Homo sapiens: one gene and its partner. The protein of the gene in region 1 purifies or fractionates together with the protein of each later gene. This does not show direct contact. Each region holds a gene or a part of one and is shown on either strand. Other genes may lie near its edges.

Evidence for each region.
Region 2: the proteins of ELOVL5 (region 1) and RAMP3 purify together in Homo sapiens (co-immunoprecipitation; one large-scale study listed by IntAct). This does not show direct contact.

Annotation. Positions count from the first base shown.
Region 1 is NC_000006.12:53,279,153-53,282,966, reverse strand, and holds part of ELOVL5 (very long chain fatty acid elongase 5), read left to right. Parts: intron 1-3,814. UniProt on the Homo sapiens protein: Catalyzes the first and rate-limiting reaction of the four reactions that constitute the long-chain fatty acids elongation cycle.
Region 2 is NC_000007.14:45,178,096-45,181,909, forward strand, and holds part of RAMP3 (receptor activity-modifying protein 3 precursor), read left to right. Parts: intron 1-3,814. UniProt on the Homo sapiens protein: Accessory protein that interacts with and modulates the function of G-protein coupled receptors including calcitonin gene-related peptide type 1 receptor (CALCRL), calcitonin receptor (CALCR) and G-protein coupled estrogen receptor 1 (GPER1).

The DNA of each region.
Region 1 (3,814 bases):
AAGCATCTCCCCAGGCTCTGGGTTTGAAGGCCATCTGATGGAACCACAGAGCAGTTGCTTTGGAAACATAATATTCTAAACTGGTTGTTTTTCTTTCCCTTCAGGCTTTCCTAAAATAGATACGTTATTGTGGGAAAATAGGATTTGGAAAAACACTTAAGCAACCTGGCAATTGATTATTGAATTTTATTTGAAAAATAACTTTGTTTACCAAAATACTTTGAAAAGGCTATTTGCTGTTCTTTTTCCCATTTAGCAGAGGTATAGAGCAGTTGAAACATCTGGTGAAATTAGTACTTACAAGAAATGCCTGATCATTGCCTAGAATACTTTTCACTCTTAGTTTCCTTACAACTAAAATTCCTTGCTGAGAAAGAAACTTCTCTCAGGGCCTGAAAGGAAACAGTTAGTTGTCCCTAGTGTATCTGACACTGCCCTGAGAGAATGCCTCACGGTAGGGAGAATGGAGAGAAGGATGCAGCTCAAACATCCTTCATTCCTCACCCACACCCAGGGGAGGGGAAGGGAATACTTTCTACAGAGAGGAAGCCTTCTGGCTTGTCCAGAGCCAGGCCTCACTCCTCTAAACTTGCCCCTGCAACACCTGGAGAGCTTGGCTCTGCAGCTGGTGTAGCTAGGAGCACATCACTCTACAGATCCTCAACTAAAGTGGACTTAACTCTGCAAAGCAGGCGTCAGTGGGTAGGCTGGAGACCTTCCTTTAAATGACACAAATTATACTTTGGCTGGGACATCCAGCACCACCTTAGCCCTAGTTGGAAGCAAAAGTACTTAACATTTGCCTAAGATCATAGCAAAGACAGATAGTGCCTACCTTATGTCAGGTATTGGGCTAACTAATCTAATGCTTATTGCACTCTTACCATCTGCTTTCTACAGAGGGAAAGTTCTGGGAGGCCTGAACAGGGAGAACTGCTAGCATAAGAGGGCAGGGCTTGAGGATTCAGGGAAAATGCCAGACATACCTGTTTCAGTTTGGATTGAGGACAGGCTGTTTCTTTGTGTTTTGTTTTAAAGACTTCTCAAGTGTACAGAACCTGTCTTTTTTAACTTAGCCAAGAGTGTTACGTTCAGCTATAACCCAGGGGTATTCCTGTTCACAAGGAGAAGGAAAAAAAAAAAACACCTGTGGAGGTCATGGGTGTGAAATTATCTTAATGGGCATCCTTATGCTCTGGACATGAAAGATTTGAAATGTAAAAACCACATGCTTTGACCTGGCACTCCCTAATAGCACTGCGAAAATTGGCCAACTAAACCCTAGAGGAAATAGGTACTTTCAATTTTGAGTAGTTCATGGTTAATTTTAAACCAAACATCTGCGGAAGAAAAAGATGCAGTTAAAGGTCTGCTTTTCCACAGAATTCTTCATGGACAGAGTATCCCTACCATGTTCTTACTAAGAATTCAAAAACAGATGAAGAAGGGCAAAGATGCTTGGAACTGCTGTTTGAGGTGCATTTGGACTGAGAGTCAGGATTCCTTTGTGCTAATCCCAGTGGTACCAAGACCTGGGCCATCCTTATCACTTCTCATTCCCTGTTTTCTCATTAAAAATACGAGCTTGTACCAGATCTAAAAAATACACAGTTGAGGACTCACACAGAAACAAAGCTATGAAGAGGGTCAACCCTACGTATTCTTGGAGATTTTGCTTAGAAAAGCACCTTAGGTCCTGTGATGTAGTTGAACTTGAGTATGGATAGTCTATTTTTCATTACTTTTTACCCCATTTCTGCATAGGAGGTAGTAAACATGCAGCTTCATCAAGCTCTTATCACCAGAAGCAGCCAGTCTTCTTTGGAAAGGGGTTATCTTGTTGCTCTGACATCTTGGGATGCTGATGTTAATGGCTGATAAGGGCCACCCAAGATGATGTTTTCCTCCTTTTTCTTTAAGTGTTTCCAGTGACCTTGTTTCCTGAGATGTTTCAGTAGCATTCCAGAAAGTGCCATGGAAATGGTTATTATGCTAAAGGTTACAAGTTGTTTGTGGTTAAATGTGTTATTAGATGGGAAAAGTCAACTCACCGTTAAAAATGATTCACTCCTGGCTGGGTGCAGGGGCTCACACCTGGAATCCCAGCACTTTGGGTGGCCAAGGCAAGCAGATCACTGGAGCTCAGGAGTTTAAGACCAGCCTGCGCAACATGGTGAAACCCCATCTTTACAACAAAAATATAAAAATTAGCCGGGCATGACAGCGTGCACCTGTAGTCTCAGCTACTTGGGAGGCTGAGGTAGGAGGATGGCTTGAGCCCAGGAAGTGGAGGTTGCAGTGAGCTGAGATTGTGCCACTGCACACCAGCCTGAGCAACACAGCCAGGCCCTGTCTCAAAGAAAAAAGATTCACTCCATGAATTATGTCATCCAGAACCAGGTGTGAAACTCACCTACATTTTTTTCTTTCATTGAAAAGGTGCATGAAACCATCAGGGTTATTGACTTTATCTCATATGGAGAAAAGAGCTTGTAGCTAGGTTTTAATTATAGCTCTGCACATCCTCTTGGCCTAATTAAAGTTTGCTTTACTCCAAGGAAGGAGGAAGTGTATAAAGCTTTGCAGTGGTACTGTTTGTATCTCAGTTCCTCAGAAAAAAGCCTGCAAATAATGCCCCTGGGTGGTTCTTGGAGTTGGCAGTGGTATGGAAAATTTCGTTAGGTAGTGGTTAGCTGTTTGTGATGGCCTGCTTTTTCATTATAGTATAGTCCTGTCCTCTTTCGATCTGATTCTCAGAAGCCCAAGGTAGACAGACACCTGCCCCTATTTTCAGTACTTCACCTTCTCCAGCCTACTGGGTCCTCTCACCCTGTGGTGTCTACTTAACACGCAACTTGAAGAATTTCTGGGAAATTGACCAAAACAGCTCTTTGGAAAGAAGCTAGGCCTCAGTCCCAAAGGGAAAGGTGGCTGATGTGACTTTGACTTGAGGATTGTCTCCTGTGATGTGCTCCTAGTGGGGCTACAGGGGTCAGTCCTTTGCTTTGAGCACCTCTGTAGTCCACTACCCATGGACACATTGCTATCCTCTGAGGGGGATGGAGGGAGTAGAGCCCTCTACTGCTAGCCCATTTTATGGAGGTTTGATGAGGGTCTTAGGTGAATAAGCTTCAACTCAGGTCCTTGGTCTTGGTTTGTTAAATTATTCTATCCTTTCTGAAGCCAGGGAGATTTGAGAATTTCCATGACCCCATTATGAAATTGATGATGAAGAGTTTTCATCTTGTGAACAGAGTTCAGATGAATATGATCACAAAGTCAAGCCTCGTTTAAAATACTATGAAGCTCTCTTTATTGCTGCACATGAAACATTAGGCCTAGATTTAGGGGAAAGAATTGGCAGTCTTGAACTCTTTGTCATTTGTTTAGCAAATATTTGTTTGACATCTCTGGTACGCTAATCCCTGTGCTGGAATATGTTGATGCAGATGCAGGAGCCACAGTCACCACCCTTCGAAATCTTACAGAAGAGCACACAACAGGCCCATTAACAAAGGGAGCATGTGAGCAAACAGCTACAGGTCACTGCAAGGTGAGGGTAGAGGAAGGAGAATAGACCTCAGGCTCTAGTGCTCAAGGGAGTAATCATGAAGAAAATAGAATTTTAACTGAACTTTGAAGGATAGATAGGATTTTGAGAGCTGGAGATGGGGGTACATAGGTGCAGAGGGCATTCTAGTTGAAAAGAATAAAACAGTGGTCACTGCCAACACTTATGTTTAATCCTATGAACCACATTGGGTGAGACAGGCATTATGTACTTCATGGTGGGAGCCTTATGTTTATCCCATTT
Region 2 (3,814 bases), on another chromosome or scaffold:
TCTCCTTACAGCTGGAGCTGGGTGGACATTGTCATGTGTCTTTCTTACAGCACCAGTCATGGCTGGGTCTGTCCTCAGTGGTCAGAGGACTTAGAGGAATTGGGTTCCAATGGTTTATATCAGGTGTAATTGTGGACAACACCTCATAGTGAAGGGAGGTCCCCTTGTTCTAGAAGCTTCCCAAGCTTTTCATCTCCTTACCTCCTTGGAAATTGCTCATGGCCTCACAGTCCTCTGCCCCACCCCACTCCACCTCTGGCTTTGCAGTCTTGTGCCACCCCCTGGTGGCTGCTGCCAGACCCTAAATGTGCTGGCCTCATGCTTTTGCATGTTAGCACCCCAGCCCCTGTCTTCCGTAGAGACACTGACCATGGCCCTGCCCCAGGAAGCCTCCCCGGCCCTGGCCATTCTAGTGGCCCAGCAGATGGGGGCTTCTTGAGGCTGTCACATCTGCAGCCCCACTCTGTGGGGGAACTGCTTGCTGAACCAAGTGGAATGGAATTCTGAGTCTGCTGGGAAGGGGTGCTGGGATTCAGGAAGGGGTTTTGCAGGCTCCTCCTGGTCCTCAGTGAGCCTGGACACAGGCCTGGAATGGACCCACTGGTGGGGGTGGAGTCAGGGAAGAGGAGGTCATAGCTTCGTAGCTTCTGGTCTTGCTCCTCTCTGTAACCCGCTAAAGCCTTGGTAAAGAGACTAAATAGAGATGTCCAGCCGTGGATTGGGAGGACAGGAGTGGAGGCAACCCGATGGGCATTTAGGAGCCAGTGAGTGAGTGGGCAAGAGCCACTGACTGAGTGCCCTTGGTGAAGTCAGACCTGATGCTGGAAAAGGGGAGCTGGGAACAGCCAGGTTGACATTGCGGAGCCCTCCCACGACCCGGCCGGCAGCACCAGCTCCCAAGAGAGTGGCAAGAGTAGCTGAGAAGCAGTGAGGTGTCCAGAGCCCTCCTCCACCCCAGCTGGACACTGGAGGTGTATTCTTGGAGCTGGTGACACCAGGGTTTCTGGGCCTTCCCATGTAATTGAGAACGTGGCACAGTGTCCCAGAGAGGGAGGCTGGAGAGAGCGGCTGATACGCATTATCTTTTGCCACTGGGTCCAGGAGGGTGGTCTAGGGTAGGATTGGAGCTGTCCTTTCTGAGGAGTGAGACCAGCCAAGAGGAAGGACCTAGAAGCAGTGACCCCCCCAACCCCTGGAAGCTCTGGGGACAAGCTCTTCTGCAGGGTCCCAGTGTCTCATCAGCTCTCAGTCCCCACTCCCAGTCACGAGTCACTTCCAAGCAGGGTCCCTGGAAATCTGACCTAAGGCTCTGACCCTGAAGGACAGAGACCAGAGAGATGGAACCAAGCAAACCCGGGGGCCATGCACCAAGAAGAAAACTGCAAACGTCACGACTGATATCTTCAGAGGGCAACAACTATCTCTCATGTGATGAATGAGAACAAAGAAAGAGGTTTAGAAATGGAAGATGCAATAGAAGTGAAATGGAATAGAAAGGTTGGAAGGGAGATGTTGAGGAAATCTCCCAGGAATAGGAGAGAGAGACAGAGAAGATGATCAGGAGGTCAGTGGTCAGTCCAGGCGTAACACCAAGATAGTAGGAATTCTAGAAAGAGAACAGGAGAATGGAAGGATAAAGGGCCCTTGCCAGGGGCTGAGGGCATGAGCTTGCAGCCGGTGAGGGCTTGCCCGGTACTAGCACGAGGGAGGAAAATGTCCCACATGGACCCTGGAATATCAGAGCTGTGGAAACAAAGGAAAACTTCTACACCTATCCAGAAGGAGGAAAAAAATGAGCTCTAGGTTGGAGATGAGGGGATCAGAGGCCTTCAGGCTCCCCCACCGCAGCCCTGGAAACCGAGGACTGTGGGATGCAAGGACCTGAGAATTTCGGACTGTGATTTCTCAGCTAGTGTGCTATTTCCCGCCAATTTGTCCACTAATTAGGGAGAAACGAAAATACTGTCAGACGTGTGGCACCTCCAGCATCTGATTCCCACATACCTTTCTCAAGCTCTGGCGGCTGTGCGCCAAGGTGTGGAGCAAACCACGACAAAAGAAGCTATGAGATTTGGGGAGCGGAGCCAAGGCAGGAGAGGGAAGCCCCAGGGAGGGCGGTGCCCCAGCGTGGCAGTACACCCTGGGTGGAGGCAGCCTGGCCCAGGTGGAGGGCACTTGATGCTTACCTGACATGGTGACTGCCTGCCCATGCCCTGCAGCCCAGCTCAGTCAAGAATGAAGGACACTCCTTTCTTTCCCCTGAATGTTCATTCTGCTTTGGTCCCCACTGAAGCAGGGTGGGCCTTGGTGAGCTTAGAGGAGAGGTGGCTTGCTCCCCTCAATAGGACTGGTCCACATGACGACCCCATCAGGAGTCGAGTCATGGCTGGGAAGACCCTATTCCCCAAACTCGCCCATGGCCTGCCTGTGGCCTTCCCTGGGGAGGAGTCTCATTGCCCCTCGGGGCAACCAGAGCGTGTCCTCTCCTGGGAACCTCCCTCCAATAGCAGCAATGGGCTCCTTCTGTACCCAGTTAAGGAGCATTGCTATGGGATTTCCAAATGCAACACTATATTGCCTGGGAACACACTCAGGTGGTGAAACATAAAGGAAGGTGGGCAAACACCCCAGAGGTGGGTGGGGGGAGAGGGAGTCTGACTGGGGGGTTTGCCCGGCTTCCAGCCTGCTGGGCTCCTCTCCTTCCCATCCTGGGTTGTGGTGCATCTTTTTTAGGGAGAGTGCTCTGGGGAGCCTGACTGAAGGAGGAGTGGAGAGGCCCCAGATTATCCAGGGGATGAATAAATCATAAGTAGTTCCCGGTTTTCTAGAGAAGCACTGAATGTGGACCTCTCTAGATATGTGACAAAAATGCAGATTTTGTGGATCCACAGAGATGGGTGCTGTGCTCAGCTCTGCCCCAAACCTAACAGCTGGGGTGGGCTCACCCCATGACCTCCTCTGTGCCAGGCACTTGCTGGGGCACATGGACCTCAACTCATTTGGTTCTCTCAACCACCTGATAGGATAAGTGTTATTAAACCCACTTACAGATGAGGAAACTGAGGTCCAGGGAGGATAAATGACATGGCCCATACCACAAAGATGGTGAGTGGCTGAGCTGGAGTTGGAGAGGCCCTGCCATGTTGGCTCTGCAACCTGAGCCTGAAGCCACTGTCCATGCTGTCTTCTGGGATTACCTCTGCTCCGTGGGCTTCTCCATGTGGCCTAGCTTTGGCTGGGAGTGGGGTTTGGGAACAGCAGGGGCTTTCAGCCCTGCCTCACCTCCTCTTGGGACGGTTCTGGGGCTAGACATCACTCCTCTTGCCCTGTAGACTCGCTGTCCACAGAGGGTCTTCTCCAGGGTCTGTCTGGCTCATCTCAGCCCTGGGGATGGTTGTTGGGGGGTGGCATTCCTGGGTAGCAGTTCAGTGGAATGACTTTGGAGGCACAGAGGTTACCGCATGTGATTCTCATCACACACATAGATGCTGGGAACTTCTGAAGGTGAAGGCTGTTGCAGGGTGTTGTTAGACGGCTCCCCAGCTCCTGGATCAGCTGGCGGGGGGTTGGGGTGGACAGCAGGCTACTGAATCTGAGGCCCTGTGGGAGAAGCAGGTCAGGGAAGATGAGGGTTTGTCCATGGACCTAGCTGTTGAGGTGTCTCTAATGCCTGGGCATGTCTCAGGTGCTGCATTGTGGCTGAGGCCCAGGAGAGCCAACAGCTTTGTACTTGGATTCGAGGCTGTTTCTTTTGCTCTGGCTGTTCTCTGCTGACACTACCTGGAAAGGCACAGGTGTGTGTCTGACCTACATT